7 linked regions of the Homo sapiens genome follow. Changing the gene in region 1 together with any one later gene gives a genetic interaction. Each region holds a gene or a part of one and is shown in the gene's direction. Other genes may lie near its edges.

Region 1 (2,763 bases):
ATAGGTTAATGTTTCAAGTAGCAGTATGTTTTTTGTGCTCTTAACTATTATTTTAGGTGATATAACTATTTTCCACTGTTAGCCTGTGGACTGTTAACTGTACATTCAAAAGGTAGTCCTGATGTATAGCAAAACATGAAAAGCACTGCATTACTGTGATAAAAGTGGTTCTGTTTTATGGGGAATAGTTGTTTGTTAATGACAGTGCAGTATTGACAAATTTATCTTCATGATGCCTCTTTTTCCATGGTTTTATTGTAATGAATCTTACTTTCTTGTTCTAGGCTGCTGAAAATATGACAAGCTGACTTTCTGGAGAAATTCTGATGAGATATGTCAAGCTCTGCAAGAGGGTTTGAAGATTGCATTGTAGTTGAGAATGTACAATGAAATTACTGCATGCAGCAGTGTAGAAAAATTTTACTTTTTAAAAGAATTATAAAACCATAGCTTTATAAATCAGTGGAAAGTGGCTTACAGAGAGAACTATCAGATGTGTTTACATCACATCTTATTCACTTTTTTTAACAGCTCTAATGCTTTGGCATTGCTATGTTCATATTTATGTATTCCTTATTTATAGCTCTGATAGCTTTAATTTTCTAAGCAGTCTGTCTATCAGATGTGCACATCTGCTGTGCCAGGTTGAAGTATAGTGGAACCCATCAGTAGTAATGTGTAGTAGTTATGACTTGTTGACATTTCCATTATAAACTTTAATTTTGAATTGTTTATGCATTATAACTGTGGATTTATATTGTATTGGGCTGAAAGTTGACAGGATTTCAGCCACCACTTGTGAATTTTTATTTAGATTCATTATGTATATCAGAATCTTGTTTTTTGAAATAAGAGCATGGAAAACATTTCTTGTAATCTACTCTTGAACAAAGAATATTTAGTTTTTCAAACAGTTTGTTGGGCAGCTAATAGTGTGAACCAGGTCATTTTTGTATTGAGTAAAAAAATCAAACTTTGAGAAACTTGGATTTTAAAAGTAATGACAATGCTTAGGTTAGTATTATTTGTAATTTGAATCATTTACATCTAATGAGAATGTTAGTTGAGAATGTTTTCTTAAAGTTTTATATCCTATAAATAACGGAATAAAAAAATTTGTAAAATGAAACAACAAACATGCAAAATTCCTATTTACTTTTATTACATAAAAGTAATTTTAGTGCTTACCTAATAAATCTTGAATGGTTATTTAATAAATTATTAGATGGGTGATGTGTTTCAAAAGATACTTGCTATTTTTTGAAGAAATAAGGATTTCCAGTCATTAAACAAAACTAAACAATCTTATTAGATGGGTGATGTGTTTCAAAGGATACTTGCTATTTTTTGAAGAAATAAGGATTTCCAGTCATTAAACAAAACTAAACAATCAAATGTTCTATATTAGGAATCTCAAGTATGGCTTTTTTTAAAAAACCTTTTTAACATCTTGATGTCAAGGATTATAAGTATGGCTTTTCAGAATTGTTTTGTTTGTCATTATTCTTGCCTTTAAAATTTTAACTCATCAAAGTGAAGATTAGAAATAAATTTTAGAAAATGTAGAATAGTATTGATTCTGTTCCTGTAATAGAATCTCAGTGGAGTTTTTTTGCAAAACTAATATGGATTTCATCTGATTTTATTATTTCTTAAATTTTAGATTTTATTGAGTACCATTTATATGATTGTACAAGCATTCACTCTTTACTAGCATTTTTTGTTTTTCAGACAAGCTGAAGTGGTTTTATTAAGATTTGGTAATATTTAAATAGCAACCTTCTCTGCCTTTTTTTTTTTTTAATATAGAATTTTGACCATTTTGACTTTTTAAATGCCTGGCATCTTTACCAACCAAGTAAACTGGAAGATCTGTTACTGGTAGAACAGGTTGAGGAGACAGTAGGAATTTGTAAAAAGTCATTTGATTTATAATCAACACTACAAATACTATGTGTTATTTATAAAATCATAAAGAACACTTTTGTCAGACTCCAAAATTTGTATATACTTCCAGGCCATAAGAGTTGATAGTATTATTTATGACTTTGTAGATTAAGTTATTTATGTATGAAACAAAGCAGGAAAATATATTGAGAAGGGATCGTGTTTACAGAGGACTTCTTTAAAGTGTCACATTTTTAAAATGTAAACATATTTTTAATGCATACTTAAGTAATATTTAAGAAACTAAACAAAATAATGATACAATTGCAGTGTTGTGCTTGTTGTCAATGACAAAAATAAAACCATTTTGGTGGTATTGGCCTGTACTTTTGTTTTAATATATGCTTTTGTTAATTCAACTTGTGTTTCTATAGGACAAAAGATACAGAACATAAAATTTACCATTTTAACCTTTTTTTTTTTTTTTTTTTGAGATGGAGTCTCACTCTGTCACCCAGGCTGGAGTGCATTGGCATGATCTTGGCTCAATGCAGCCTCCGCCTCCTGGGTTCAAATGATTCTCCTGCCTCAGCCTCCCGAGTAGCTGGGATTACAGGCACCTGCCACCATACCTGGCTAATTTTTTGTATTTTTAGTAGAGGCGGGGCTTCACCATGTTGGCCAGGCTGGTCTCAAACTCCTGACCTCAGATGATCTGCCTGCCTCAACCTCCCAAAGTGCTGGGATTATAGGCATGAGCTACAATGCCCTGCCCTTTTTAACCATTTTTAAGTTTCATAGTTCAGTGACATTCAGAATATTCTTATTGTATTGTAACTATCACTATTGTCCATCTCTTGAACTTTCTTATCCCAA
Region 2 (3,500 bases), on another chromosome or scaffold:
AGTTGCTTTGTGTTTGTTCACTGCTGCATCTCTGGTACATAATTAGTGCTGAGTAAATATTGGTTATATAAATGCACGTCACTTGTGTTGTTATTTGAGGAATAGCTTTCTAAAATTATTGATAATTTTCTATTTCCCTTATTTATATTACAGAGCTATATTCTGCATTGATTAAAAATTAATGGTTGTCTTTATGGTTTTATAAAAGAACCTTACTGAAACATTCAGGATGTAATCCTGACGCTTTTGGGATGTCATACTTACTCCCAGTAAGTGGGAAGTAAACTTGAAGCAAAGGATCATGTTTTACTTGTCTTGGGAGGCTGTGGTTAAGAGCTAGCTGGAGTGGCAGAATTAGACATAGCTGGGTTTGAATCCTGGGTCTACCATTTGCTAGCTCCCTTTGACAAGGCAGCTTTGTATTGCTAAACTTTAGTTTGCTAATTTGTAAAATTCAGACAAATCTAGTTCATAAGACTCCTTGTGAGGATCAAGTGCTTGCTGAGCACAGCATTATTAGATATGCAGCAACTCCCTTTTCAACTAGATTGAAGAAGTCAGGATAGAGTTTTATTTTTAATTACAAGCATGTTCTTAAATTTGCCAGGAGTAGAATGATATGAATTTTAATGTCTACGTGTGAGATAAATTATAAATTTCAAGGGAGATTTAAAAGGTGTTGAGGTTTTTTCAACAATATGAAAATTGAGCAGAGTAAAACAGTTACAAGTGACATGTTAATGATATACAAGTATGTCATTAATGACATAACATAACTTTTCTAACTTTGTACTAGACTTTATAAAAAAAAAATTTTAGAGACAGGGTCTTGCTATATTACCCAGGCTGGTCTCAAACTCCTGGGCTCAAGTGATCCTCCTTCCTCAGCCTCCCCAAGGAGTGATATTACAGGCATGAGCAACTGTGCCCGGCTGCATTAGACTTTAAAATGTAAACTAGAAACCATATCTAGCATACTAAACTGATTTTTAATACAATATTTGCTATATTAAAGCAACATAGGGGGAAAGCTTTAATTATTACCTAGATAATTCTTCCCACCTACAGTATTTCCAGAAATATAGAAGAGAGGTTAATGATAATTTATGGTTTTTTAGTAGTTTCAGAGTGTTAAAAACCGTAAATTATCATAGCTTGAAAACCTGTAACTATTTGTTTGTTTCTAATGTTGAAAATTTTTTGGCCTCTGAAAAACTTTCAGAATCAAATTTAGGATTTAAAACTATTTTCCCCAGGTGACTTTGGTTATGTCCTTTTTGTTCTTTGAATATTCAGGAGAAATAAGGTATTGTTTCCAAAGAGGTAACCCACTGCCACAGCACATCCTGTGATTTGGGCCGTTACTCCTCAGACCAGAGACTGGGTCCGTTTTTGGTTTGTAGATGGTTGTGTGCTCATAGTTTCTATTAAATTTACATGGCAGTGACCTAGGACTTTTTTAAATTAATTCTTTTTAAACAGCGTAGGTGGAAATGGAATAAATAAGATTCTACTTTGTAACATGACTAAACCCAGAGCAAACTGACCATGCATTAATAATAAAATGTAGGCATGAAAATTTGTATTTCGTATACTTAAAGTCAGAGTCAGATTTTTCCAGTTTTCTGATCTGTATGTTTTTTAAATAAGCTTTTTGTAAGATGAAAATAATGCCCTTTTGATTATGCAGTATTTTCTTGTTTGCTTAGAGACATAAAGAACATTTAAACTGTCAGTTATTATAATGACAAGAGGTATTCCTGATCAGTAAGAGAAGTTATCACTGAAGACATTTCTGATTTCACTGCCCAGACCCACAGCTTCTGTTCTTATATAAACCTACATTCATTGACCATAACAATAGGTTAAAAGATTCATCTGTGCCAATGACTAGGCATTTTATTAAAGTATTTAACATTTAATTGTCTCATTTTCAAGTGCCAGTTAACAGCCATCGACACACAGCTTTCCATAAAGAAGGCATTATTGCTTTTTTTTTTTTTTTCTTTTGGAGATAGAGTCTTGCACTGTCGCCAGGGTTCAAGCGATTCTCCTGCCTCAGCCTCCCGAGTAGCTGGGACTACAGGTGCGCGCCACCACGCCCAGCTAATTTTTGTATTTTTTTTTTTTGGTGGAGACGGGGTTTCACAATGTTGGTCAGGATGGTCTTGATCTCTTGACATTGTGGCCCGCCTGCCTCAGCCTCCCAAAGTGCTGGGATTACAGGCATGAGCCACTGGCACCTGGCCTACTATTTGATGAGTTGGAAAATTGCATGCAAGTTGATGGATTCCTTAATGTTCACAAACCAGAGTGATTTTTGTTGGGGGGAATGGTATAAACAAAGCCTGTCCCACCCAGATATGATAATTGTGAGAAATTTTGTTCCTTTTTAAGTTATTTTCCAGTGTTAATATAAATGTTATAGTCTCTTCTGCTACATTTTGCAGTAGACTAGCTTAGAGCTTATTTAATTAGGAAGCATGGACAAAGAGTTTTCAGAAAAAATTAAATTTTAGAATTTTTAAATTTGGTTAAGCATTTTTAAAAATGGGAATCTTGTACATTTTTAATAAACCAGATTGTGACCTTACTGTTCAGAGGAAGAATATGATGTTAATTGTATAAAGCATTCCTACTTTGGAATTTATTTCCCTTGCCAAAAATTGTAGTTTAGGTTTCTAACTTAGTGATTAACAGTGAGGACTCTGGAGTCAGGAGTATTTAAAATCTATCTCCAGTCCAGCATTACCTAGCTAATAACTTGCTTCACTTTTTAAAGCCTTGGTTTCTCATTTATGAAAAAGGAGGCCAGGTGCGGTGGCTCACGCCTGTAATCCCAGCACTTTGGGCGGCCGAGGCGGCTGGATCACTTGAGGGTCAGGAGTTCAAGACCAACCTGGCCAACATAGTGAAACCTGGTCTCTACTAAAAATACAAAACATTAGCTGGACGTGGTGGCACACACCTATAGTCTTACCTACTCAGGAGGCTGAGGCAGGAGAATCATGTGAACCCAGGTGGCAGAGGTTGCAGTGAGCCAAGATGGCACCACTGCACTCCAGACTGAGTTACAGAGTGAGATTCTGTCTCAAAAAAAAGCAGGGGTCGGTGGTGGGGGTGGTGGGAAGTGAGGATAATTGTACCTACTCACAGGGTTGTAAAAATGAGTTAATTCAGATAAGAATTTAAAGCGACACCCAGTACTCTGTGACATCTTACTAGATACTACTCACAGTCCCATTGGAGTTTTACTGCTAATGCTAGTCTGTGTACTCCTTTTCGTTCTGATTAGAGATATTTTGGAGCTTACTGTATCTTCTGATAATTCTTCTCCATAGGCCTCTAGCATTATTTATTTTAAAAAGCAAATCCTAAAATATAGGTTTAAGATTTCCTTAATACTTTACAGGGGGAAGGAAATTAGCAAGAAATCTTTGTTGCCAGTACATGTTTTTTAAAGGTTTTTTAGTTAATTCAGAATAAACATTGCAAATCTA
Region 3 (3,500 bases), on another chromosome or scaffold:
GTGTCTTTCTAGGAAATTCAGTTCATGAAGATAAGAAGTTTCTTGACAAATACATGCCCCAGTTCATGAAACATCTTCATTATAGAATAATTGATGTGAGCACTGTTAAAGAACTGTGCAGGTAAGGGCTATATTTAGGATCCATTAAATTACCTCATTTAGCATGTTTTAATTGAGAATTTGTGGAAAGTAATTGGATAGAGCTGTAGAACTAAGGCTACCAAGTGGGTTCATATCTTCCTCATCCCATTCTTGCTTGTATAGGACCTTAACTTACCCTGGACTGGTGAGAATTGGGAGCAACAACGTCAGACATGTTCCCAGTAAATAAGCCAATGCCTGGCACAAAATAAGTGCTCAATACATTTTCTGGATTAACTAATATTATGTGGAAGTCTTGTGACTGGGAACATATAGATGAAAAGCTCTTAAGTACTTTAGAAAATAGTGGATCGACATATGTGTAAAAAAACGCACCCTGAAAATATACTCTATGATGACTCCTATAGTGAAAATGTGCGTATGGACTAGTGAGGTCACAAGGGAAGCAGCATCTAACTGTGCTGGAGCAAGAGGAATGGGGAGTCAGAGAAACCTTTACATAGCAAGGAAATAGCTTTGAAATTGAGATGTGAAGAAGAGTGGAAGTCTTGCAGGCATTTTATTGAGGAGAGAGCATTCAGAGAGAGCAGACAGAAGTATAAGAATGTGAGGGAGCAGGAAGCTAAGGCAAAATGTGTTAAATGAATCCCAAAGCATTCATTAATGCTGGAGTGCAAAGCATGAGGTTGGAGAAGGTGGGAGGTGGTTCTAGGGCCTCAAGAGCTTGCACACCATGCCAGTGAAGTTCACTATGATCTTGCAAGGAATGGGGTTCCTTTGAGAAAGTGTAGGTAGAAGAGTGAGTGATAACGATCGTTCTGATTCGAAGGTGGCAAGAAAAGTGGTAGAAAGATAGAAAGGAGGCTTTTTTTTTTTTTTTTTTTTTTTGAGACGGAGTCTCGTTCTGTCGCCCAGGCGGGAGTGCTGTGGCGCGATCTCCGCTCACTGCAAGCTCCGCCTTCCGGATTCACGCCATTCTCCTGCCTCAGCCTCCCGAGTAGCTGGGACTACAGGCGCCCGCCACTGCGCCCGGCTAATTTTTTGTATTTTTAGTAGAGACGGGGTTTCACCGTGGTCTCGATCTCCTGACCTCGTGATCCGCCTGCCTCGGCCTCCCAAAGTGCTGGGATTACAGGCGTGAGCCACCGCGCCCGGCCTGAAAGGAGGCTTTTCTGCCATCTTGGGGAGAAGAATGAACTGGAGAAAGGGCAGGGCATGGAAATGAGGGGCTTGTATGATAAAAATGTGAGAGGGTCAGTTGACAGACACTCAGTGTTCGAATGAGGTGGTGTGAAAAGGAAGAGGTATAATGTTATTCTGATGTTTGTAGTTTGAGCAGCTTTGGTGGATGATGGCAGTGTTCAAATAAAAAGGAGAAGAAGAAGAGTAGATATGGTGGATGGGGCAGGGGAGGTGTTGACAATGGTGGGTGTGTTTTGATGTATGTTGAATTAGAAGTGTCTGGTAGATTTTTAGATGGAGATATCTAGTGGGCAGTTGCATATCCATGACAGAAACTCTAGGGAGGGCTGGGCTGGATTTCCAGATTTAGCAATCTTACACACTGATGAGCTTGCTCATAGAAAATATATAGAAGAAAGAGAGGAGAGGGTAGAAGATAGAGGCCCCGGCAAAGAAGCAACTTGAGAATCATGACTCAAATGCCATTTTCAATGTTAATGGATTACTTGAAGGAGGTAATTGTTCAGTATATTTGAGACAGCTTCCTTTGAGAGTTCCATTTCTGCTGTGTATAGACGCTGGTATCCAGAAGAATATGAATTTGCACCAAAGAAGGCTGCTTCTCATAGGTAAGTTTGAGTTCTACCAAGCGTTTTCCAGTCTGACACACACTTAACTCCCAAATTCCTGACTGCTTGAAATAATGTCCCTTAACTCTTTTTTCTCGGGGAAAAGATAAAGTTCAACTAGCATAAACATAACATTCTTTTACTGTTAGGAATTCTGGTCAGGATTCCAGTGTTCCATTCTGAGAGGGTTATATAGCCTTTATTGCTGTTTCAAAACTCTTAGATAGCTTGGTTTATAGGAATGATGAAACAATCTGTAATCTTTCTAGTAATGAACCGTGTTAACTTTCTTCCCACAGAAGATATGGACTTGCAGCCTTTTGAAATTAGAACACTTTTTGTGTGCAATTCTATAATACAGTTGCCTACTTTGACACTTGTTATAGTTTTTCTGATTGTTTCTCTTATGTCTGTAGCCTTAGGTACAAGTAGACAAGGAATTTAAAGATCTTGTATATTCATGTGTCCTGTACTGGTTCTTTTCTTTTTGATTTTGTAGTCTTTCAGGAGAAACATGAAACCTGATGGGAGGTTTAGCAGCTGGCTTCTAAGGGTAGCATTTATTAAACCATTTACTGAACCCCTATGATGTACCTTGCACAGTTATAGGCAAATAGAGAAAGACCAATCCCTAAAGAGTCTGGCATTCTTACATTATTTTATTGAGTGTATGTAGACTGTAGCACAGGCATACAGGCCTAGACTACCTTATCTGACACAACTGGGGTATGTTTTGATTTCAGAATTTTTCAGATTTTAGAAAGGTGTTACTACATCTGTATTGTTTATTATCTTGTAGCATCCCTAACAAGGTTTGAGAAGCAGCCCATAATAAAACACATAGGTATTCTGCAGTGAAACGTGTATATTCACACCAAATGGCATAAGTAATGATGACTGTCAATAGCCTCACATTAAGATTGCTCAGGTTTTGCTACATAATAGGTTCTGTAAGTACTGTGGGTTTTCAGGTGTGTTTTGGATTTCAGTTTTGTGGATAAGATATTGTGTGCCTTTATTTAGCCAGAGGCTATAATTTTGGCAGCTTCGGCTCTGACATATATCCAAGTCCTGGAAAGAAAGCAGATGGTTGCCTTAGCCACACAAATAATTGTCATAAAACTCTTGCACTAAAATTTGTGCAGGGAATTCTCTAGAAGTGGCCCTTGGCCCATGATTCAGAGTTTATTGATTTACTTGCACACTGTTCTAATAATCTTGGTTACCTGATTTCTCAGAATACAACAGATGAGAAACAACATATTGGAAGAAAAGAAAGGCTCTTAGATGGAGGCAGGCTGCCACTGATTATAGCACAAATCACCATGAGAGAGGAGGTAGATCCTCTGGTATGGTTAGGTACTGTTTGATAATTGATGTTTATTATGATGACTGAGTCATGACTTATGTTCAAGTGTGTCAGTCTGTTTTGTTGAGGGACATCATCAAGTATTGGGCAATGTTTCTCAAACTGTGTTCCATGAACTGTTTATAAGTATTCTACAAATGTGGTCGATTAAGTTTTAGAAATACTAAAATTTATTAATTTTAGAAAATTAATAAATTAGAAATATAGGACAGCTTCCT
Region 4 (3,500 bases), on another chromosome or scaffold:
TGACCTTGTGATCTGCCTGCCTCAGCCTCCCAAAGTGCTGGGATTACAGGCATGAGCCAGCGTGCCCTGCCGAATCTGAGTATTTCTTCATGTGTGTTTTATCTTTTTTAATTTTTTGTTTGTGAAATTGCCTGTTCATCCCTTCACCCATTTTTATTTTGGGGTTTCAGTTCTTTCTTGTTGATTTGCGGACATTTCTTGTATTCCATAGATACTAATCATTTAAGTATTACAAGTGTATCTGTTCCTAATCTGTCATTTGTCTGTAATCTTTCTCATGATGTTCTTCATTGAACAGAAATCTTATATTTTGATATAATCAAATTAAAAAATCTTTTGGCTATATGGTTGTATTTTGGAGGTTTTGTTTAAGAAATCTTTCCCCAGTGCTGTGCCACAAAGTTACTCTGCTATGTTATGTACTGCTAATTCATAGTTTTCTTTTAAACTTATTGGTCTTTAATACATGCAGAGTTTAACTTTTTATGTGTCACAAGTTTGTGATCCAGTTTATTTTCCATGTACTGTGCCAGTTTTCCTGGCATCTTTCTTCCCTTTTCCCATAGATATGGTGTCACACTGTGTATTAAGTGCTCATATATACTCTGAATATTGAGTCCTTTCCTTTGGTTTGTCTGTTCTTGCTCTAACACTATACTGTTTTAACTCTATGGTTTTGTAGTAGTATGTTTTTTCCTCCTATATAAATAACTCTTCCCATTTATTTTGTTTTAACTTTATTTTGATATAATTATAGGTTCATAGGAAGTTGCACAAATAGTAAAGAGAGGTCTGGTTTCCTCCAGTGGTTACATTTTATGCAGCTTCACCCAAGGAACTTCCCTCAATAGTTACAATTTATACCACTGTAGTACAGTATCAAAACCAATAAATTGATTTTGTACAATGCCTGTGTATAGTTCTGTGCCATTTTATCACCTGTGTGGATTCCTGCAACTACCTCTGCAATCAAGATACAGAGCTAGGCTGATGTGGTTGACCATGCCCGTAGTCCCAGCACTTTGGGAGGCTGAGGTAGGCAGATTGCTTGAGCCCAGGAGTTTGAGACCAGCAACATGTCAAAACCCCGTCTCTGGCAAAAAATACGAAAATTAGTCTGGTGTGGTTGTGCATGCCTGTAGTCCCAGCTACTTGGGGGGCTGAGGTGGGAGGATCACCTAAGCCTGGGAAGGTTGAAGCTGCAGTGAGCTGTGATTATGCCACTGCACTCTAGCCTGGGACAGAGTAAGACCCTGTCTCAAAAAAAAAAAAAAAAAAAGAGGAAGAAGATATGGAACTATTCTATCACTACAAAGATTTTCTTCATGTTACCTCTTTCTAGTTTCATCCACCTCCCTTACCCTCACCATCCCTTAATCAGTTTAATCAGTTTCTATCTCTATAATTTTGTCATTACCAGAGTGCTATATAAATGGAATCCTATAGCATGTAATCTTTTGAAATTGAGATTCATCCAAATTGTTGAATGAGACAGTTCTTGAGATTCATCAACATTGTTGAATGAGACAGTTCTTGAGGTTCATCCAAATTGTTGCATTTATCAATAGTTTGTACTTCTTAATTGTTGAGTAGTATTCCATGGTACGTATGTATCCAAGTTTAACCATTCACCTGCATATCTGGGCTGTTTTTAATTTTTGGCTGTTACAGATAAAGCTGCTGTGAACATTCTTGTACAGTTTTGTGTGTGTGTGTGCGTATGGATTTAAATTTTCATTTTTTGGGGGATAAATGCCCAGGGACATGGTTGCTGGATGGTATGGTAAGTGTATGTTTAGTTTTTGAAGTAACTCCCAAAGTGTTTTCTGGAGTGGTTGTACCATTTTACATTTCTACCAGGAATGTATGAGAGATTGCATTTCTTTGCATCGTCTTCCACTAGCATTTGATACTGTCACTGTTTTTTTTTTTTTTTTTGGAGATGGAGTCTTGCTCTGTCACCCAGGCTGGAGTGCAGTGGCGCAATCTTGGCTCAGTGCAACCTCCGCCTCCCAGATTCAAGCAATTCTCCTGCCTCAGCCTCCCGAGTAGCTGGGACTACAAGCGCATGCCACCACACCTAGTTAATTTTTTGCATTTTAGTAGAGATGGGGTTTTACCATGTTGCCCAAGCTGGTCTCGAACTCCTGAGCTCAGGCAATCTGCCCGCCTCAGCCTCCCAAAGTGCTAGGATTATAGATGTGAGCCACTGCGCCCGGCCACTATTTTTTTTTTTTTTAACTGTTCTGATGTGTGATGATATCTCAGTGTGGTCTTAATTTGCATTTCCCAAATTAGCTAGTGATGTTAAATATCTGGTAGAGCACTTTCTCTCATCTTTGCCCATTTTCAAAGTTTGGCTCAGCTATTTATGTATTTTTATTCTTTCCTATGTATTTTAGAGTTAGTTTGAGTTTCTAAAAACAATACCAGTAGAACTTTGACTTACAGATTTATTTTGAGGAAAATTGATATCTTTATAATATTAGGACATTTTATCTGAGAACATGGAATGGTCTTTCACTTATGACTTTGAGTAAAATATTGTAGTTTATAAAAATACTGTGAATGGTATACTATTTTTTAAGTAGATTAGTGCTGATACAAGAAAATGCTATTGATTTTCATATATTGATAATCTACCTTTGTCTTTTTGTGTTCTACTAGACAGAAATCAAAATTCATAGTGTAAATCTTGAAGTAATTTTAGTGCGTGTAGAGTGAGGCCTGGAACTATGTAGTGCCTTTATTCCTGGGTTTATCTGTTACATCTCCCTGTGACAGTTTTTTAATTTGTTGGGACTTTTTTTTTTTTTTTAGATGGAGTCTCACTCTGTTGCCCAGGCTGGAGTGCAGTGGTGTGATCTCAGCTCACTGCAACCTCCAACTCCCAAGTTCAAGCGTTTCTCCTGCCTCAGCCTCCCTAGTAGCTGGGATTACAGGTGCCCGCCAGGACACCCGGCCAATTTTTGTATTTTTAGTAGAGATGGGGTTTCACCAGGTTGGTCTCAAACTCCTGACCTCAGGTTATCCTCCCACCTAGGCCTCCTGAAGTGCTGGGATTACAGGCGTGAGCCACCATGCCTGGCAATTAAATTATGGAGTTAGTGAGGTTTGTAGGTTCTGTTCTCATTTTTGTCCATTTAATTCATGCACTTTTTGAAGAATTAATAGTCTTACATATGTGCATGCCATTGATCATAGGCAAAATCAGCTGAGAGCTATGGATAGCTCAGTGAAATTCTGCCATCAATAAGAGGACATGTTCTCACTGACAGGTACTATGATAGTAATGTTAACTTACAATTTGAATTCCATCCATATGGTTCGTTTGTCTTTGTCTGTATCTGATTCTTAAAGCTGCTTTGCTGAATACAAAAGAACACAAACAATTATGTTGGAAGAAGAAATCCTACATCATGACTGCATTCAGAAAGTCCTTGTGAGTCCAAGGAAATTTTTACTTCCTTTCTATTAAGGAACATATATATTACATTCAT
Region 5 (3,500 bases), on another chromosome or scaffold:
ACTGCACTCCAACCTGGGGGACAGAGCGAGACTGTGTCTCAGAAAAAGACAAAAAAAAAAAAAAGATAATGTGGCCAGGTGCAGTGACACACACCTGTAATCCCGGCTCTTTAGGAGGCCAAGGCAGGAGGATTGCTTGAGCCCAGCAGTTTGAGAGCAGTGTGGGCAACATAGTGAAACCCCATCACTACAAAAAATTTAAAAATTAGCAAGGCATGGTGGCACATGCCTGTGGTCCCAGCTACTTGGGAGGCTGAGGTGAGAGGATCACTTGAGCCTAGGAGGTCGAGGCTGCAGTGAGCTGTGATCACACCACTGCACACTAGCCTTGGGGACAGTAAGACCCTGTCACACACACAAAAAAGATAATCTGGCAAAATTAATATGAGCAGCATTTTTCACTCGAAGGGAAACCTAAATAAGCAATAAGCAAGTTATGTTTTAATCATAAGACTTACTTGGAAAATTAAGTATAAGACCATAGTAAGCTACAGATGCTTCTCAGATACTTCCCGATAAACTCATCATAAATAAAAAATACCATTAAGTAAAAAATGATGCTTTTTTTGTTGTTGTTTTTTTGAGATGGAGTTTCGCTCTTGTTGCCCAGGCTGGAGTGCAGTGCAACTGCAATCTCTGCCTCCTGGGTTCAAGCGATTCTCCTGCTCAGCCTCTCGAGTGGCTGGGATTACAGGCGTCTGCCACCACGCCCAGCTAATATTTGTATTTTAGTAGATACAGGGTTTCACCTTGTTGGCCAGGCTGGTCTCAAACTCCTGACTTCGGTTGATCCACCCGCCTCGGCCTCCCAAAGTGTTGGGATTACACATGTGAGCCACCACGCCCAGCCAAAAATGCATTTTAATATAACCTCAATAAACCTGTTGTAAAGGTGAAAAATCATTGGTGGACCATTTTAAATTAGCGGCTGTCTACTATTTTGCACTCACTAGTTGGCAAAGCGTTAATTTTAGGAAGTGTTAACATGCCATTGTTGGGAGTGACTATCAGAGCTTTGAAATTATAGTTGGGTGGGGGGTTGTACAAAGGATTTCTGTAAGATAACTTTCATTAATCATATACTTGAGGAAATACTGGAAACTTTTATATCCATGAGTTATTAAACAGTTTTTAGGATAACTTTATTAATAAAAGAGAATCTCAGCTTAATACTTTCAAATTGTTTGTTAACACTCTGTTCAGCAGTAAAGAGCCATTCTACCATGAAAAAAAGTTAATCTTGTTCATTGCTGAATTTCTATCCCCTAGATGGGGACTCTGCACCTGAGGTATATAATAATGTTTGTTGAACAGGTAGCTGCAGGTGTAAACACAAACATTATTCTGGTGTTAGAATGTTATCCAGGTTGTAAGTGAAAACCACTCACCTGTTTCTTGAGCAGAGGTTTTAACATTGAAATGTGCAGAGCCTCGCTGATAGGAATGGATGTAGGTCTGCTAAAATTTAACCTTGCTTACATTGCTGTTGAAATTGGGATGCAAGCTGTCCAAGCACATTGTGTTAAACTTTTAAGTTTATAGTCATTTATCCGTTATTCACTTTTTTTTTTTTTTTTTTGAGACGGAGTCTTGCTCTGTTGCCCAGGCCGGAGTGCAGTTGTGCAGTCTCGGCTCACTGCAACCTCCATCTCCTGGGTTCAAGCGATTCTCCTGCCTCAGCTTCCCGAGTAGCTGGGATTACAGGCGTGCGCTACCACGCCTGGCTAATTTTTATATTTTTGGTAGAGACGAGGTTTCACCATGTTGGTCAGGCTGGTCTCGAACTCCTGACTTTGTGATCTGCCTGCCTCAGCCTCCCAAAATGTTGGGATTAAAGGTGTGAGCCACTGCGCCCAGCCAGTTGTTCAGTCTTTATCTCTGCTAAATATTTGGAATATTCTAAATTACATGTTTGTTTAGAATGCTTTGTTATACAGAAGTATTTACTATTCTTAAATTATAGCCAGTTGTTTGGGGAAGAAGATGCTGATCAAGAAGTATCTCCTGACAGAGCTGACCCTGAAGCTGCCTGTGAGTAAATTATTTGGCATATGTTTTATCAGATACTATTATCTTTATTTTGTTGATTTAATTTTGGTAGCTTAAGGGAAAAAAATTGCTATATGTGCTAGGTAATGTGTGTTTAACATGTGTTTTTTTTTTGTTTTTTTTTTTTTTTTTTTTTTTTGTCTCAGAGGTGGAGTTTCTCTCTTATTGCCCAGGCTGGAGTACAATGGTATAATCTCGGCTCACTGCAACCTCCGCCTTCTGGGTTCAAATGATTCTCCTGCCTCAGGCTCCTGAGTAGCTGGGATTACAGGCACCTGCCACCGCGCCCAGCTAATTTTTGTATATTTAGTAGAGACAGGGTTTCACCATGTTAGCCAGGCTGGTCTCGAACTCTTGACCTGAGGTGATCCACCCGCCTTGGCCTCCCAAAGTGCTGGGACAGGCGTAAGCAACCGTGCCTATCCAAAACAATGTTTTACAAAAAAAATATGATTCCGTTTTACTGATGAGGAAATCAAGGTTAAGAGAAATTTCACAAGTCTAGTAAATAGAGCTGCGAGTTGTTCCTAGATCTCATGACTGGTCTGTGCTTTGAACTGTTATATGTGTAGCTTTCAGAAACTAAGTTACAACAGGCCAGGCAAGGTGGCTCACGCCCGTAGTCCCAGCATTTTGGGAGGCTGAAGCAGCTGGATTGCATGAGGTCAGGAGTTTGAGACCAGCCTGGCCAACATGGCAAAACCCTGTCTCTACAAAAAATATAAAAATTAGCCAGGCATGGTGGTGCATACCTGTAGTCCCAACTACTTGTGAGGTTGAGACGGGAAGATGGCTTGAGCCCAAGAGGTAGAAGCTACAGTGAGCCGAGATCTTAACACTGCACTCCAGCCTGGGCAACAGAGTGAGACTTTGTCTCCAAAAACAAGAAAGAAAGAAACTGGGATACAAAAAGATGCTGATGAATGTGTTATTTTCTTATTCCTTGAACTCAGAATGTGTTGCATTTGGGGATTTCCATGAGTGACTTTCTTTTTATTCCCAAAGGTGAGTGAAAAGAGTTCAGTTCTACATTTATTACGGTTGAAAATAAAATAATGATCGTTTTATAGGGGAACCAACGGAAGCCGAAGCCAGAGCTAGAGCATCTAATGAAGATGGTGACATTAAACGTATTTCTACTAAGGAATGGGCTAAATCAACTGGATATGATCCAGTTAAACTTTTTACCAAGGTTAGATTTACTTTTTTTATAATCATGGATAGATGTATTGTTGTGCATAGATGTATTGTTCTAGTTCTGCTTGTTTTAAAATAGTCCATAAAATTGAATTAAGCTTCTATGTATATGCCTTGTGATGTCCTAATAAAATGATTGATGCAGTCAGGATATGCAAGTTTTAAAATGTTACCATCTACACTAAATCTATCAGTATAACATCTAAATAGGAGGTAAAATGAGAGGTGGCTTGTATACCTTCTTGGTTGTCTTT
Region 6 (3,500 bases), on another chromosome or scaffold:
AAAAATCACAAAATAAGATGGTAGAAATATGTGCAGATATAATCACAATGATTATAAATGATCTAAACTCTAAACTCTCATTAAATTATAAAGTCTGTTAGAATGGAGAAATGAAACAATGTTTAGTTCTCTTTTGTTTTTAATAAGCATATCTAAAATAAAGTGCTACAGAAAAGTTGAGAGTGAAAGGATGAAAAAAAATACATGCCAGGCAAATATGCAAAAGAAAGTAGATGTAGCTGCATTAATACTAGGAAAAACAGACTTTAGAGCAAAAAGTATTTTATAGATAATAGTGGTCATTAAACACTGACGAAAGTTTTAATTCACTGGAAGATAATTCGATTCCCAACTCAAATTCACATTATAATCTAGCTCCAAAATATATAGGCAAAATCTGCAGAATGCTAACAAGCAGTTAACATATCCATAATCATACTGGGAGAGCTATCAATAATAGTAGACCAGTCAGATAAAAAAATTAGACTACAAAAGATTTGAACAATGAAGTTAAGCTTGAACTAATGGACATATTATAAAAAGTGCACTCAACAACTGGAGAGTATGCATTCTTTTCAAGCACAAGTTAACATTTCTAAAAGTTAATTGTATACTGAGTCATAAAGCAAGTATCAAAAAATTTCAAAAAATGGACACCACGTAGACCATATCCTATTTCTATTAAGATAGAAATAATAAAAAAAAAATTAAAAGTTAATGGATGGTTACAAAATGGAAGCAAATTCCCCTTAAGATTATAAATTATTTAAAATGTGTGTGTGTGTGTTTAGTGCTATATGGAAGACATTTATCAGGTAGAAGATACTTTTCTCTGTTAATAACTAGCCTTGTGACCTTGAGCAATTATCTGGACTTCAGTTTTTCTTCATTTCAAAGATGAGAGAGTTGGAACAGATAGCATCCAAGGACCAACTCAGATTTTTATGAATATTGATATATAGTTTTTTAATTGTCAGATCATTTAATCCCTATCTCTTTGTAATCGTCTGTTGGATTGTACTCCAGGGGCTGTACAGTAGGACTGAATTGGCTATAACAATTTTTACTAACTTTCTCATGTTGATTTTTGTCATGAAAACACATCTCATCCTTGAGTGATAGGATTTTTAAGGGAGGCTGTGGAGTGCAGTGTTTCCTAGATGACAGATTGCAGCCCTTTGGGTACACAGATGTATTTATGGGATGCCCAAGTTCTCAGCAAGAATATTTAATGTATTTTTGTTTAAATGCTAATATAAAAATTTAACAAAAACATACTCTACACCATCTGTATGGATACTTTATAATAAGAACTGCCTCCTGATTTTTGTTTCCTCCTCATTGGTACCAAGTCTTTTAATTCTTGCAAGCTAATGAGCAGATGTCATTCCTACATGGATGTCCTTGGTTTTCCTGTGAGGAAACAGAGAGGTTAAGTAACTGTCCAATGTTTAACAACTTGTATGTGGTGGAGTTGAGATTTGAACCTAGATAGTAGATGTTAAAACCTGTACTTTTAAGCATTAGGCTGTACTTGGTGGTTACAAGATAAGGCTTTTTTTTTTTTTTTTCTCCCATCTTTCTGGGACTCAGCTTTATTGTCTATAAAATGAATGTATACTTCAAGGTTGCTTATGAGTATTAAATGAGAAAAATACATGTTTAGTGCTTAGCACAACAGTATATAGTAAATGCTTGATAAATGTTAGCTGTTGTCATCACTGTCATTATCACTATTAAAAAGATTACTATTTGTGAGGTATATTTTCTACCTTTTTTAATATTTATCACTTATTTATAGCCTGATTTAAGATCCAGTCTGATTTTTTTAGGCTCAGACTTTGTTTTCGGACTTAGACTCATAAGCATATAGAAACTAGCACAGATATGTCTGCTTTATCATGTAAATTTCAATTATATTGCTCCTTTTAGAACGATGCTTGGTGGCAATTATATCATTAACAGGATAGGTAATATTAGCGTGGTTGTTAATATTTAACCTGCGCGACTGTAGGAAGTCTTCAATGGTAATAAGAAGCTTTGAGTGCTTAGTGGTTATACTATAGGACCTGTTTTCCCACAGGCATTTTCTCTTCTGTCTGGGTGTTTAATATAGTGGACAAGTACACAGGCTCTGGAGCCAAGATTTCCTGGGTTCAGATCGTTTTTCTGGCACTTACTGGCTTTGTCACGAGGTTGGTAAGAGGCTATGGAGTGCATAGGAGTTCGATAAATCTTACCTAATATTATTATTGTTGTTATTTGTGGGAGGGAACAATGGAGGAACCCAGATCTGGGAGAGATACCTTAGAAAGTGACAGGAGCGAACATACAAGTGGTACCTGAAAAAAATCTTGATTTGACAAATAATAATGACTGCTAAATCTCTGATTGTTAACCTGGGAATGTCACTACACAGCTCACTTTTTCTTTTTTATGTCTTAGGTTGGGTTTTTTGTGAAGAGAGGATGTTCTAGAGGCATGGTTGAAATTGAATTGTAAGTGTTAAAAGTGCTAAAACTCCTTTTTCCTATAAAATTCTTAGTTTATATTCATGTTTTCCTGATGATTAGAAAAGAGTATTAATATAGTATTATGGCATAAATATTGGAAATAATATTTAAAGAATACTTAATCCAGATAAGTAAGGGGTTTAAAAAATATATTTTAAAAACTTAAATTGTAGGCTAGCCATGGTGGCTCATGCCTGTAATCTGAGCACTTTGGGGAGGCCGAGGTGGGCAGATCACCTGAGATCAGGAGTTGGAGACCAGCCTGACCAACATGAGGAAGCCCCGTCTCTACTAAAAATAGAAAAATTATCCAGGCATGGTGGCACATGCCTGTAATCCCAGCTACTGGGGAGTCTGAGGCAGGAGAATTGCTGGAACCTGGGAGGCAAAGGTTGCAGTGAGCCGAGATGGCGCCACTGCACTCCAGCCTGGGAGACAGAGCTAGACTCTGCCCATGCCCCCTGCCCCCCCCAAAAAAAAAACTTGTGAGAATTTTATTTTAAAAAATTATCAAGGAAATGATAAGTTTATAGCAGGTAATGAAATAGAACTATACTACTATTAAGTAGTCATGATGAAGTTGCAATATTTTTCACAAATTTAAAGTATCTGGGTTTTTTTTTTTTTGCTGATCTTGAAAGTAATACTTGCTTGTCTTTAAAAAACGCAAACAATGTAGAAGTGTATAATGTTGAAAATAAAAGCCTTCTTGCCATCATTCCTAATTCTATAAATAACTACTGCTAATAGTTTGATGAATCTCATGTATGACAAGGACTTGGTACTTCTGTCACCATTTTTTATTTTCTCCCTTATGACACCAATAATTCATCATAGTATTCTTTTCCCTTGAGCTTGGATATTCTCAATTGGCCATTCTTGGCAGCTATTTTTGATAGACTAGAGTTGATGTTTATGATGAAACCAGTTGACCATCCTTGGTATATATAATTTTAATCCTTTACACATAAATATGCACATTATTTA
Region 7 (3,500 bases), on another chromosome or scaffold:
AAAAAGATTCAAACATGAATTGTCATTTTTGTCATCTTCAATTAAAATTGTTCCAAATTTTAAAATTTGTTTGACTTATGGTCAAATGTCTGCTGCCTCAAACTAGAATAAAACCCATCTTGAATTTCTATGACAGAATACTAAAAACAAAAGACTTTTTAAAAGTACTCTTGTGTTAACATTTATTTTAATTCTGTTCTTTTCTCTCTAGCTTTCTTGTTTTTCTCAAAGTACTCCTCATACCTTCATAAGACAGTCTTTGTAGTCAATGCTAAAGATAGAGAATAGAGAAAAACTCTGTGTTCAGGATTATATATAAAGAGAAGCAGTAACCTCAGAGTGAGTGAGTCATTTAAGTCTGAATCAAGGAAAGATAAGGATGTGGTTGGCCAGATCAGAGAAATATGCCTATTCTGTCTCTCCCAGGTGGGTTTAGCTAACTCAGGGAGAAACATTTTGGGGTGGCAGATATATAGAGCAGGCTCAGCACATCAAGATGGGGATGTTGGCTGAGGATAGAAGAGGCATTGAAAGGAGTCAGAGAGACAAATGGGTGTGAGAGGAGAGGCCAGAATGTAGAATAAGCACAGAAACATAAAAAACCAGATCAGACCAAGAGAAAAGAGAAAGTAAAGTGAATGCTGAAGAAGAGAAAAGTTCGAAAAGCCAACCTATACAAAGTAAGCAGCATCATATTACAGTGAAGGCAGCCACATAGCCTTTAAAAGACCACACAGAACAGATAGAAGATAGAGAATGACTAGGGACAGTTAATGGTTAAATTGAGATGAACAAGAAATGATACACAAAGTAACATCAATGAATGCAGAAAGAAATAGCAGAGAGAAACCAGTTATGTGCAATTGTAGCATAAGACTTCAGAATATAGCAAAAAAAAAAAAAAAATAGATGGATTGGATATATTTACAGAGAGATGCCTCATAGGTCTAGACTTAGAGTGGAGAGCAAATAACTGGTAGAAAGTAGGAGCAGTGAGGAGGCAAAAGAAGTGATTGAGACATGGAACAGGTAGAACAGGCACCGGGAAGAAAAAGGCTGTGGGAGAAAGTGGTTTACAAAGTAGCCCTGGGCACAGAGGTGGAATAATGAAAAGTATGCAAACGCAGTACCTGGAAGGCATGGATTAAATGACTGGATCAGTGTGGACTGGGCAACTGGAGATAACATTATTTTTTTGTTGCACAAGTAGCATGGCCCTATAGATATCCAGAGGCAGGACAGGATAGGTGGGATGAGCTAAGCCCAAGTTTACCTCCAGAGGATGGTCAGAAACACAGTGTAATTTAGGGAAAGATGTGATGGGCTAATCAGATACACGGACACAGACCTCAGCTAAGTATGAGTTAGAAAACCCCAGTAGATAAGAAGTGGACCCAGAACAAGTGAAGAGTAAGGGAGTAAGCAGAGATGAAGTAAGACAAAAGTGAAGGCAAAATAGTGAATGGCTTAGGAGGAAAGACTAATGAAGTATTTATTAGATTCAGAATGAGTCGGGGCTCCACACAGGAGATAATTCAGGATCCATGGAAAAGAGTGAGAAAAACGGACGAAAAATAAAGGAGAAACGTGAGACCAGGTCAGTCATGGACACTGAAAGAAACACCCAAAAGGTTTGGAGTGAGCAGGCAGTTCAAGAAACATGAAGATGGTTACAGGATAAAAAATAGCTGGACAGAGCGGGAGGTGGAGAAGCATACGTAGAAGTTGAAGTGGAAAGCATCAGTAGCAGGCAGAGAAAGGCATGAGCTCAGACAGAGAATCAGGCATATTCGAAAGAATTTGGAACAGATTGAGAGTGAAACAGGCAGATAAAATGGGGAACCATCAGAAATACTGAAAACTTGGCCTAACACAGAGGTTGGGGGGAACTTAAGTGACTAGAAGATAAGGAAATGATCAGACATGGAACAGGCTAACAGACAAAGAAGATCGTGGGTGGTAAAAGTAAAAAGCAAAATAAAATAGACTGAGAAAAACAGACCATTGTTACTGCAGAGTAGAATCAGTGGTTGGAGATGGATACAGAGTATCAGCATAGATGTGGAGATAGAAACATACAACTACATAGAAAAGCAGCTAGTTTGTGCAGAGGGTTATACCTTACTGCATGAGTGGTGGGAGAAGAACGTTGGTTGAGGTCAGGCTTTGTAGAATAGTTTTCTAGCTTTTTCCATGATCAGCACACAAAAGAAAGGAAAAAGCACACAGAACCACTTTGAATTGTTCTGGGTTGAGCTGAGATAACATTTTTAAAAATACAATGTGTTTTGTTTTTGTTTTTTAAACAAAATACTGGGAGAGATTTTTGTCAGACTAGTGGCTTTAAGTAGATGATGTCACCATATCACTTTCTCCTTCTCCAAGTATTAATAGATTTATTGAAACATCTTAAATCTATAAAACCTCAGTCATTTATATACATCAGAGGATCCCATGTTTGAGGAACTTAAATATAAATATGATGTGTTTTTCTAACGCATACAACTTTTACCCTGAGGTATAGAAGCACTTTCTTGGAATTGTTAAAGCATGTGTGCATGATTGCTAGGTAGCATTTACATGTAGTATTTCAGTAATTGCCTCCCTAGCTGCCCTTCTTTTCCAACACCAAGACATTAATTTTTCTTCTTCCTGTACTCCTCTATTCTTTTTATATAGCAAGGACCATGCAGCAACTACTGCTGGAGCTGCTAGCCTAGCAGGTGGGCACCACCGGGAAGCATGGGCCACCAAAGGTCCTTCCTATGAAGACTTATACACTCAGAATGTTGTCATTAACATGGATGACCAAGAAGATCTTCATCGAGCCTCACTGGAAGGGAAATCTGCCAAAGAGAGGCCTATTTGGTTGAGAGAAAGCACTGTCCAAGGGGCATATGGTTCTGAAGATATGAAAGAAGGTAAGAGTAGAAGTCAGTAAAATGGATGTGTCTTAGGTTCTGTAGAACATGAACTTGGCTTAGTGGGAAACTGCCTGGGCAATTCTGGATCTGTTCTACAGAACAATTAATTGCATTATATTAGGAAGTAAGAAATTGAACAATAAGATAAAAACCAACTAGTATACTTCCATTGCCCTTCAACTTAGTGAAAATAACAAATAGCCTTTTAAATTTTCATTTTTAGATTTGAAAAATTGTCATCTTTTTATCTTAATTTCTTGGAAAAATGCTATCTGTTGTTTTCAAGGTAGCCATACTCACCTTTCCTTTAATCTTATATTACCCTGACTTATATGCATTTAATTTTTCTGAATTGGGAGCCAAAACTATACGCTACCCCAAACTTTATGTTTTCTCTTCATAAATACCAAGGAGTGTATGCTACCTGAAATAGATACAAAGAGACCACATGAATAAAGGATTGAGCATTCTCACAGTCCAAGACGGTTAGCAGAACTTTGTTCTAGAGGATTTTGGAAATTTCTGAGGCATAAAGGGTTAAGAATTGCATACTAATCTTCGGAAGTTAGAGAACTG

What was found.
Region 2: changes in MZT1 (region 1) and ERH together harm fitness less than expected from each alone (positive genetic interaction), as found in Homo sapiens cells (one large-scale study listed by BioGRID).
Region 3: changes in MZT1 (region 1) and REXO2 together harm fitness less than expected from each alone (positive genetic interaction), as found in Homo sapiens cells (one large-scale study listed by BioGRID).
Region 4: changes in MZT1 (region 1) and WDR7 together harm fitness less than expected from each alone (positive genetic interaction), as found in Homo sapiens cells (one large-scale study listed by BioGRID).
Region 5: changes in MZT1 (region 1) and UBA2 together harm fitness less than expected from each alone (positive genetic interaction), as found in Homo sapiens cells (one large-scale study listed by BioGRID).
Region 6: changes in MZT1 (region 1) and SMC5 together harm fitness less than expected from each alone (positive genetic interaction), as found in Homo sapiens cells (one large-scale study listed by BioGRID).
Region 7: changes in MZT1 (region 1) and GTF2E1 together harm fitness less than expected from each alone (positive genetic interaction), as found in Homo sapiens cells (one large-scale study listed by BioGRID).

The regions. Positions count from the first base shown.
Region 1 is NC_000013.11:72,707,867-72,710,629, reverse strand, and holds the end of MZT1 (mitotic-spindle organizing protein 1), read left to right. Parts: intron 1-284; coding exon 285-308; 3' UTR 309-2,263; downstream 2,264-2,763. UniProt on the Homo sapiens protein: Required for the recruitment and the assembly of the gamma-tubulin ring complex (gTuRC) at the centrosome.
Region 2 is NC_000014.9:69,381,300-69,384,799, reverse strand, and holds part of ERH (enhancer of rudimentary homolog), read left to right. Parts: intron 1-3,500. UniProt on the Homo sapiens protein: May have a role in the cell cycle.
Region 3 is NC_000011.10:114,445,967-114,449,466, forward strand, and holds part of REXO2 (oligoribonuclease, mitochondrial precursor), read left to right. Parts: intron 1-12; coding exon 13-121; intron 122-1,859; coding exon 1,860-1,913; intron 1,914-3,500. UniProt on the Homo sapiens protein: 3'-to-5'exoribonuclease that preferentially degrades DNA and RNA oligonucleotides composed of only two nucleotides. Binds and degrades longer oligonucleotides with a lower affinity.
Region 4 is NC_000018.10:56,654,359-56,657,858, forward strand, and holds part of WDR7 (WD repeat-containing protein 7), read left to right. Parts: intron 1-3,500.
Region 5 is NC_000019.10:34,441,881-34,445,380, forward strand, and holds part of UBA2 (SUMO-activating enzyme subunit 2), read left to right. Parts: intron 1-1,963; coding exon 1,964-2,031; intron 2,032-3,119; coding exon 3,120-3,241; intron 3,242-3,500. UniProt on the Homo sapiens protein: The heterodimer acts as an E1 ligase for SUMO1, SUMO2, SUMO3, and probably SUMO4. It mediates ATP-dependent activation of SUMO proteins followed by formation of a thioester bond between a SUMO protein and a conserved active site cysteine residue on UBA2/SAE2.
Region 6 is NC_000009.12:70,265,478-70,268,977, forward strand, and holds part of SMC5 (structural maintenance of chromosomes protein 5), read left to right. Parts: intron 1-2,445; coding exon 2,446-2,498; intron 2,499-3,141; exon of another isoform or gene 3,142-3,500. UniProt on the Homo sapiens protein: Core component of the SMC5-SMC6 complex, a complex involved in repair of DNA double-strand breaks by homologous recombination.
Region 7 is NC_000003.12:120,773,744-120,777,243, forward strand, and holds part of GTF2E1 (general transcription factor IIE subunit 1), read left to right. Parts: intron 1-2,679; coding exon 2,680-2,921; intron 2,922-3,500.